Regions from separate parts of the Homo sapiens genome. Here regions 1 and 3 are each linked to region 2. The links come from fine-mapping of genetic effects on gene expression. A gene starts in region 2. Each other region holds a variant in brackets. All regions are shown on one strand. Distances are from middle to middle.

Region 1 (2,751 bases), 260 kb before region 2:
TGGAGGGCCTGGCGGCAGTCTCGGCCCGGCTGGCGAGGTGGCAGATGGAGGTGCGTAGAGGCTGAGGGGCGTGCGTGGTGCCCTGCCGGCCAGCACTCATGCTTGCTCCTCACTCCAGGGCCTGAGGAAGCCCAGGCCAGCCCCTGACCCTGCCCTGCTGGGGCTGTTCTGCGCGTGGGCACCCCGTTTCTGTGCCCCGTTTCTGGGCTGTGCCAGGCAGCCCAGAAAGGGTTAGGCTCTGACAGGCACGACCCCAGGCCCAGGAAATACTGTCAGCTCAGTTCACGGGTGAGAAAAAGGAGGCTGACGTCGCCAGGCTGGTAGGGGTGGAACCAGCGATGAAACCACGAGCCTCCCATGGCACCAGCTCACCCTTGAGTCACCCCTCAGTGCCACAGTGCTGTGGGGTCCCGCCTCAGCTGCCCCGGCCTGGGCTGCAGCGCCAGGAGCCTGCCCAGCCCTTCCCTGCATCTCCCCAGCCCGGGCTGCCTTCCCTGCATCTCCCCAGAACCCAGGGGCCTCAAATGCTCAGTGCCCCGGCTGAATGGTGGCCAAGCCAATGAGCAGCGCTGCCCTTGCTGAGCCCAGCCACACATACCCAGGTATCTGCTGTGTGGCAGAGCTGTCCCTGTGGGCACAGGAGGAGTGGCCTGTGCCCACCTCCACGATGGCACCCAGAGCCCAGCTGGGATGCTGGGGTCCCCACCAGTTCCACAGTGAGTTGGGAACCTGGTCATAAGCACTGGGGGCTCGAGGGCAAATGGGCAAGGGCTCAGGGTTAGGGACGGGGACTCCTGATGGCAGAGGAGGAGAAGCAATGCTCTGAAGGAGGACAGGCGGGAGCTGGAGGGCGGGGAACAGGGCTGGCTCCTGGGAGGGATGAAGGGAGCAAGCCTCAGGCCGGTGCTCCAGGCACCACCCAAAGTCTTGCCGCGTGGAGTGATATCTGGACCTGGCATCTGAGGAGACTCCCCCGAGGCTGCACAGCTGGATTCAGCCTCCAGCAGCTTGGGAGGGGACACAAATTGGAAACGTGGGATTTGGGAGCACCCTGTGCCCACGAACAGCCCCAGAAGCATCCCAAAGGGACAGGGGCCCAGGCCACATGTCACCACCTCACTTGGGGCTGGTTCCAGTAGAGCACACAGGACGCCCATCCCCCCGGCACCAGGGTGGTAAGAAGCCTCTGGTTCCCCCAGGAGCGGGGGCCAGGTGAGAACAGCCCAGGGTCCTCGGAGGTGGACCTCGGCCCCTCCCCCATGACAAGCCCAGGACCTTGAGGCAGAATGGCCACCTTTCGGGAGGGAGGGTTGGTGAAGAGGCCCGGACACCCTGCATTGGGTAATGCCGGGAGGGGATCCCCTGCCAGTGCCCCCCCCTCCAAGCAGGGGGACTTTGTCCACGGCTGCC[C/T]CCAGTGCCCTGCCAGGAGGCTGAGGACCCCGGCACATCGGCAATGCTGCTCCCACCCTGCCTTCAGGCTAGCCTAGAGACCACAATGGAGAAATCATGCCCCCATAGCGAGGGGACTTCCTCAGCCCGGCCACCAGCACTCTCTCCAGCCCTGGGCTCAGATGGCTTCTGGCTGCTTCTAGAAACAGAGCTCTTCCACCACGAGCTGTTGGCGGGAGACCTGGCTGATGCAAACAAATTCCCGCAGGGAAATCCACCTGCATCCATGCACGCATGACATCCACAGGGCAGGCCCGCATCCACGCATGGGTGACAGTCAGGACAGACTGCAAGCTGCTATTTTGGGGAAAACAATGAGAGGAGATTTCTTCTTTTTGCTCAGGGTCCCTGAACCTCAGCCCTCCTGAGATCTCTTGTTTTGGGGGCTCAGGATCCCTGAACCTCAGCCCTCCTGGTACTGGGCCGGGTCGTCTGTTCGGGGGGTCGTCCTGTGTGCTGAGATGCTCAGCAGCATCCCTGGCCCCCTCAGCCTGCCCAGCTCACCTGTCACCAAACCTGACTCCACATCTCCACTGTCCCGGGGTAGGAAGACAGAACTGCCCCTGAGTGAGAACCACCATTATTGCTTAACGGTTTTTTTCTCCTCTACTCTGAACACATCTGAATTGCGCAGCAAACACACATTGACCAGAAAGCTGCCAGAGCCCCCTGGAGCAGGTACAGCAGGTGCAGGTGTCCCGCGTGGACCCCATGCCCAAGGGAGCAGCGCAGAGCAGGGCCTCGGCTCCTCCGCAGATCCCAGGCTGAGAAGCTAGCCACGATCTTCTCTGAGAATGCGTTCCTGCCTTCCCTCCCACAGACACACGGAAACTCTCCACCTGACACGGGGGCTGCCAGCTCCCGGCACAACCCGCTTTGCGGCAGGGCTGGCTCTGCAGAGCCTGAGTCTATAAAAGGGGGAGAGGTGTGCACAGGCACTCAAGTTCGGTGTTGAAATAAAATCTTGCGCAGTAAAAAGTTTCACGTGTGTTGGGGAACAAGGCCCTAGGGCCAAGAAGCAGCAGCCTCCCACCGGGCCCCTGGCAGGCTGAGACCACTCTCCCCTTCCTGCGTGGCCAGCATCCTCCCGGGCTGGGCCCCTCCTCCTCCACACACCCCTCACAAAGGACTCAGGTGCTCGGCTAAACAGGAGAGGGCTACAGCATGTGAGTAGCCCCATGGCAGACCCACCCTGAGGGTGGGAGAGGCCTCATGCTCAGATGAGGGCTTCAGGCAGGGGTTGCGTGTGGCCCTGAGACCAGGACGGGGTCCTGGCCTCAGCTGCCCAGCTCCCGGGTGGTC
Region 2 (2,751 bases):
AAGGCAATTAACTATAAATTAAACGGAAACTCAGTGTAGCAACTTCCATTTTGTTACAAGACTAGGAAACAAAACTTGTCTCTGATTTTCTTTTTAAGAAGACTTTTAAGTGTGACTGCGCGCGGTGGCTCATGCCTGTAATCCCAGCACTTCGGGAGGCCGAGGAGGGCGTATTACTTGAGGTCAGGAGTTCGAGACCAGCCTGGCCAACATGGTGAAACCCCGTCTCTACTAAAAATAAAAAAATTAGTCGGGCTACTCGGGAGGCTGAGGCAGGAGAATCGCTTGAACCCGGGAGGCGGAGGCTGCAGTGAGCTGAGATCGTGCCATTGCACTCCAGCCTGGGCGACAGAGCGAGACCGTCTCAAAGGCTTATGGGTTTCTGATCAAGTCATCTTAGCGACTGAAAGGGCTTCAGAGAAATCTGAACTTAAGTGCAAACAAAACAAAACAAACTCCAAAACAAAAAACAACCAACCATCAGACTTTAATCTCTATAGGGACAGAGCAATTTTCCTCAAACTTTTGCTCAGCAGAACACATCTGAAACTGGCCCCCTATGTGCTACGCATCCAGAAGAGGAAAAGCCGGATCTGAAAACAATATTCCACGCTAAATGGGCCGTCCCGGCCGGGGCAGGCGGTCCCAGCACCCGTGCTGAGCTCCCCGGCATACGGCACGACGGGGCCGCGCCGGCTCTTCGGCGACAGCAAGGCCGGCATCTAACTCCACACCGTCCGCGCTTGCACCGCGCACCCAGGCTTCGTACCCAGCTCCCAGGTGGGGACCGCGCCCCCGCGGCGCCCGCGCCCCGCGCCCCGCGCCCCGCTCCCCACTCCGGCCCTGGGCCGGCGCCGCAGCGGCCCGGAAGGTACCTGCTTAGAGGGAAGGGCCCCGACTGGCGCTGCCGCGGCCCCGGTGGAGAGGGCGGCTGGGTCGGAGCGGTGCCGCGGCCCGGGGAGGCGGCCAGGCGGCGCCTCAGCACCCGGACCCCAGGGGCGTGCGGGACCCGGCTCTCGTGGACTTCCTCGGCAGCCGCCGCTTCCTCAGACGGAACTCGGGGGGCGCCCCTTCCGCCGCCCCAGGCCGCCTTGCACCCCAAGCTGCTGCGGCAGTGACAGGGAAGAAGCAGACCCGGCCACCTCTGCCCATAGCCCCGGCCGCAGCCTCCACTCTCATGACAACCAAGCCCAGCCCTGGGCCAGGGCCTCTGCGCGTGCGCGACCCCGCCCCACCCCAGGCCGCGCCTGCGCACAAGGGGAGGGCTCCGCTACTCTGGCCCTCAGGGTTGTGTAGTTTCCGGGGCCACGGCACCTGGGCACACCAGGTGGCGTCGCGCCTTTGCTTTCCTGAGCCTTCTGAGTAAGGTAATGTGGTGTCCGTGGGGCGACGCCTGCGCACAAGACCGCGTCGGGCCTCACTTTTCCCAGGCCTTCTGGGTAATGTAGTTTCCGGGATCGGCACCCGGCCTGTGCCAGCTTGCAGAGCTCACCAGGTGCAGACCCCTGCGGCCAGGGCGAGGACGGATCTGAGCAGCTGGGCAGCAGGTGCCACCGCCTGTGGGACCCAGAGGGCTTGAGGACATCTGCAATGCTCCAGAAGCCCAAGAGCGTGAAGCTGCGGGCCCTGCGCAGCCCGAGGAAGTTCGGCGTGGCTGGCCGGAGCTGCCAGGAGGTGCTGCGCAAGGGCTGTCTCCGCTTCCAGGTGCCCGCTGGGCTAGGCGGGGACGGCCCGTCGGGGAGGCGTGTGGGGAGAATAGGAGGTGCCGCTTTTCCTCTTCCAAAACGGAGGGTGCAGGCGGCGCCCGGGGCGGGTAGTTTTCGTTCGCCTCAGCCGCTAGGACCCCGGGCCCCCGCAGCCTGGGGTTCCTGAGCGTGGCTTCAGAACGCAGGGGGGTTGGGGGACGACCTGGATCACCCCTTCCCTCTTCCCACCTCTCGGGCAGGACAGCCCTGCATCAGAGCTAGGAGACCCGGGTAGAGTGCCAGGTACTGGCACGCGGGGTCACGGCTGCTCTGCCTGTCCGGCCTCAGCTTCCCCTTGAGTAACATGAAAGGCTTGGCTAGGTGGGCTCTGCAGGCCCCTTCCAGCCCTCGCAGCTGGGGATTGCAATCGTCACCTTATTCTAGGTTGGTTTTCTTTTTAGACCAGTACTAGGGTTACCAGGTGTGCATTGCCGGGGTCGGTGCGGGTGGGGTGGGAGTAGCCATAAAATGCCTAAAACTGACCAGTGCAGAGTAACAGGGAACCGGACTCCAACAAATTAACAGTGCCACGTGCCGGTCACACTTGTGCACAGAGGCAACCAACCGTTCTCCTTCGTGTGCCAGCACCGCTCTGGCGGCTGTGTGCTGGGGATGGTGGTGTTCAGCTCCTGGCAGCAGGGAGGCGGCGCTGTCAAAGACAGGCTCTATTTGAAGCGCCCTCAGGAGCTCATTTAAAAAGGGTGAATCCTGCAGAGCCAGCAGTCACCCCCTGATGTATGTTTTTCCTGACTCTTCGTATTTTAGAACGGCCCGCAGTCAGGCGCCCTTGCTCCCGCTCCCTCATCCTTGCCTGGGCGTTGGAGCGACTGTGGCATACAGGCGGCAGCCTGAGCCTGCTTCTTTAAGCACAGCTCATTCCGGTCGTTTGTGAGGCCTGCAGATGCAAAGCCCTCGTCTTGAGACCCTTCCTCCTCCTGTTGCTTCTCCCGTCCCTGCAGCTCCCTGAGCGCGGTTCCCGGCTGTGCCTGTACGAGGATGGCACGGA
Region 3 (2,751 bases), 48 kb before region 2:
TGAGGATTACATTTCATTATGAGATGTGGGCAGGGACACAGATCCAAACCATATCAAACTCACCACTGCACTCCAGCCTGGGTGGCAGAGCCCAGCAGACTCCCAGAGTTGAGGAGACAGCTGAGAAGCCAAGGTCAGGGTGGCTAGGGTCAGGGGACAGGGCACCCTTAGCTTGAGCACCTCCACTGAGCACCAGCCACTCTCTTCTTATGGGGCAACTCCCAGCACTGGACACTTTTTTTTTTTTGAGATGGAGTCTCACTCTGTCATCCAGGCTGGAGTGTAGTGGCGCAATCCTGGCTCGTTGCAACCTCCACCTCCTGGGTTCAAGCAATTCTCCTGCCTCAGCCTCCAACTAGCTGGGATTACTGACACCTGCCACCACACCTGACTGATTTTTGTATTTTTACTAGAGACAGGGGTTCACCATGTTGCCTAGGCTGGTCTCGAACTCCTGACCGCAAGTAATCTGCCTGCCTTGGCCTCCCAAAGTGCTGGGATTACAGGTGTGAGCCACCATGCCTGGCCACTGGATGCATTTTAGACAGGACCACTCAGGGGGTGTAGTAGCTCACACCTGTAATCCCAGCACTTTGGGAGGCTGAGGTGGGAGGATCAGTTGAGCTCAGGAGTTCCAGACCAGCCTGGGCAACATAGTGAGATTCCCCTGTACAAAAATGTAAAAATTAGCTGGGTGTGGTGGCATGTGCCTGTAGTTCCAGCTACTGAGGAGGCTGAGGCAGGAGGATCAGTTGAGCCCAGGAGGTTGAAGGTTGCAACCAGCTGAGATCACACCACTGCACTGCAGTCTGGATGACAGAGCAAGACCCAATCTCAAACAATAATAAACAAAGAGGATCAGGTGTCTTAGTCTGCTTGTTATAACAAAATACCTGAGACAGGGTAATTTATAGAAAGCAGAGGTTTCTTTCTAACAGCCGTGGAGGCTGGGAGTCCAAGCATCCTCTGGAGGGAGAGAGGGAAGGCAGGCTGTGTCCTCACAGGGTGGAAGGTGGAGGGGGATCCCACACCCAAGACCCCCCACCCACTTTTTTTTTTGAGATGGAGTTTCACTCTTGTTGCCCAGGCTGGAGTGCAATGGCACGATCGCGGCTCACCGCAACCTCCACCTCCCGGGTTCAAGTGATTCTCCTGCCTCAGCCTCCCAAGTAGCTGAGATTACAGGCATGTGCCACCACGCCTGGCTAATTTTGTATTTTTAGTAGAGACGGGGTTTCTCCATGTTGGTCAGGCTAGTCTCGAACTCCCGACCTCAGGTGATCTGCCTGCCTTGGCCTCGCAAAGTGCTGGGATTACAGGCATGAGCCACTGCGCCCGGCCCACTTTTTTTTTTTGAGACAGGGTCTCACTCTGTCACCCAGGCTGAGTGCACTGGCATGATCATGGCTCACTTCAGCCTTGACCTCCAGGGCTCATGTGATCCTCCTGCCTCTGCTACCCAAATAGGTGGCACTACAGGCACATGCCACCATGCCCAGCTAATTTTATATTTTTTGTAGAGATGGGGTCTCTCTTTGTTGCCCAGGTTGGTCTTGAACTCCTGGACGCCGGTGATCCTCTCATCTCGGTCTCCCAAAGGCTGGGTTTATAGGTGTGAGCCACTGTGTCTGGCCCCAAGTCCTTTTATTGTTGCACAAATCCAACCATGAGGGCAGGGCCTATGGTCAGGCCCCACCTGTCTATACTGTTGCAC[C/T]GGGCAGTGAGTTTCCAGCCTGTGAATTTGTGGGGCACATTCACCTCCCAGCACCAGGAAACAGAATGCTGCCTGACGCTGCTACCTAGAGTAACACAGTGTTGCACGCTGAAAGAGTGAGGGTCATGATCAACTCAGTATACCACTGGAGGCGACGTGAGTAAACAGCAAACTGTTTCTCATACATGCAGAATGTTGGCAAACAAACTGCGTCTGCCACCTAGAAGGAATGCTGAGGGCAGTCACGCCTCAAGCACAGTGTTTCTTGTGATTAGGTACATCTGAAGCCTGTTAGTAACAATATGAACCTGTGATCAATTAAGCAGCTGACCGATCGTTACCTCCTCCTCCCTCCTCCTGCTACCCAATAAATAGGAAGGGCTGTGGAAGCTCGGGCGGTGCCTTTGCTCACTAGAAGCAGGGAGCTCTCTTCTTCTTCCCCGTGTTACCCTTCCGTTAAAATAGTTACTTTTGTTTTAAGTTTTCATTTCTATGTTTGTCCCTCTTCCTTCAGTCTCATAATGATGGTCTCAAGTAGTAACAGCAGTCTGCCACAACACAGGAGGTGTGAAATCCACATTACAGAGGCAAATGGGTTGCTGAGGACACTGATGTTGGTGATCAAATAGTTTGTGGGGGGCCTGGGCAACATGGTGAGAACCCACCTCTACTATACATATATATACAAAAATTAGCTGGGGGTGGTGGCTTGTGCCTGTAGTCCCAGCTACTCAGGAGACTGACGTGGGAAGATGGCTTGAGCCCTGGAGTTGGAGACTGCAGTGAGTCATGGTAGCACCACTGCACTCCAGCCTGGGCAACAGAGTGAGACCCTGTCTCTGGAATTAAAAAAAAAAGGTCCAGGCTGGGCGTAGTGGCTCACGCCTGTAATCCCAGCACTTTGGGAAGCCGAGGTGGGTGGATCACCTGAGGTTGGGAGTTCGAGACCAGCCTGGCCAATATAGTAAAACCCTGTCTCTACTAAAATTACAAAAATTAGCCAGGTGTGGTGGCAGGTGCCTGTAGTCCCAGCTACT

Direction of the effects. Alleles are on the strand shown, and positions count from the first base shown. SD is a standard deviation of normalised expression in the study named. Not every link is listed here.
With allele C in place of T in region 3, the expression in regulatory T cells of the gene that starts at base 1,198 in region 2 is higher (moderate effect, 0.46 SD a copy in Bossini-Castillo 2019).

The links. PIP is the estimated chance that this variant, and not a neighbour inherited with it, causes the effect.
Region 1: its variant is the best candidate, but not a certain one, in a credible set for the expression of CEP104 in left ventricle (GTEx, PIP 0.61).
Region 3: its variant is the best candidate, but not a certain one, in a credible set for the expression of CEP104 in regulatory T cells (Bossini-Castillo 2019, PIP 0.56).

What each region holds. Positions count from the first base shown.
Region 1 is chr1:3,599,659-3,602,409 of GRCh38, forward strand. All of the region lies in intron 2 of MEGF6 (multiple EGF like domains 6), which reads right to left. Among named protein-coding and RNA genes, the nearest start is that of MEGF6, 10 kb to the right of the region's middle. The variant C/T (reference allele first, on the strand shown) is at 1,411.
Region 2 is chr1:3,856,014-3,858,764 of GRCh38, forward strand. CEP104 (centrosomal protein 104) reads right to left here and starts at 1,198. Exons shown (of 22, transcript NM_014704.4): 1 at 876-1,198. It overlaps DFFB (DNA fragmentation factor subunit beta), which reads left to right and starts at 1,463. Exons shown (of 7, transcript NM_004402.4): 1 at 1,463-1,704; 2 at 2,705-2,751. The coding sequence starts at 1,591. RefSeq lists silencers at 865-1,364, 2,295-2,344 and an enhancer at 1,505-1,684.
Region 3 is chr1:3,808,048-3,810,798 of GRCh38, forward strand. No RefSeq gene overlaps it. Among named protein-coding and RNA genes, the nearest start is that of LRRC47, 13 kb to the left of the region's middle. The variant C/T (reference allele first, on the strand shown) is at 1,715.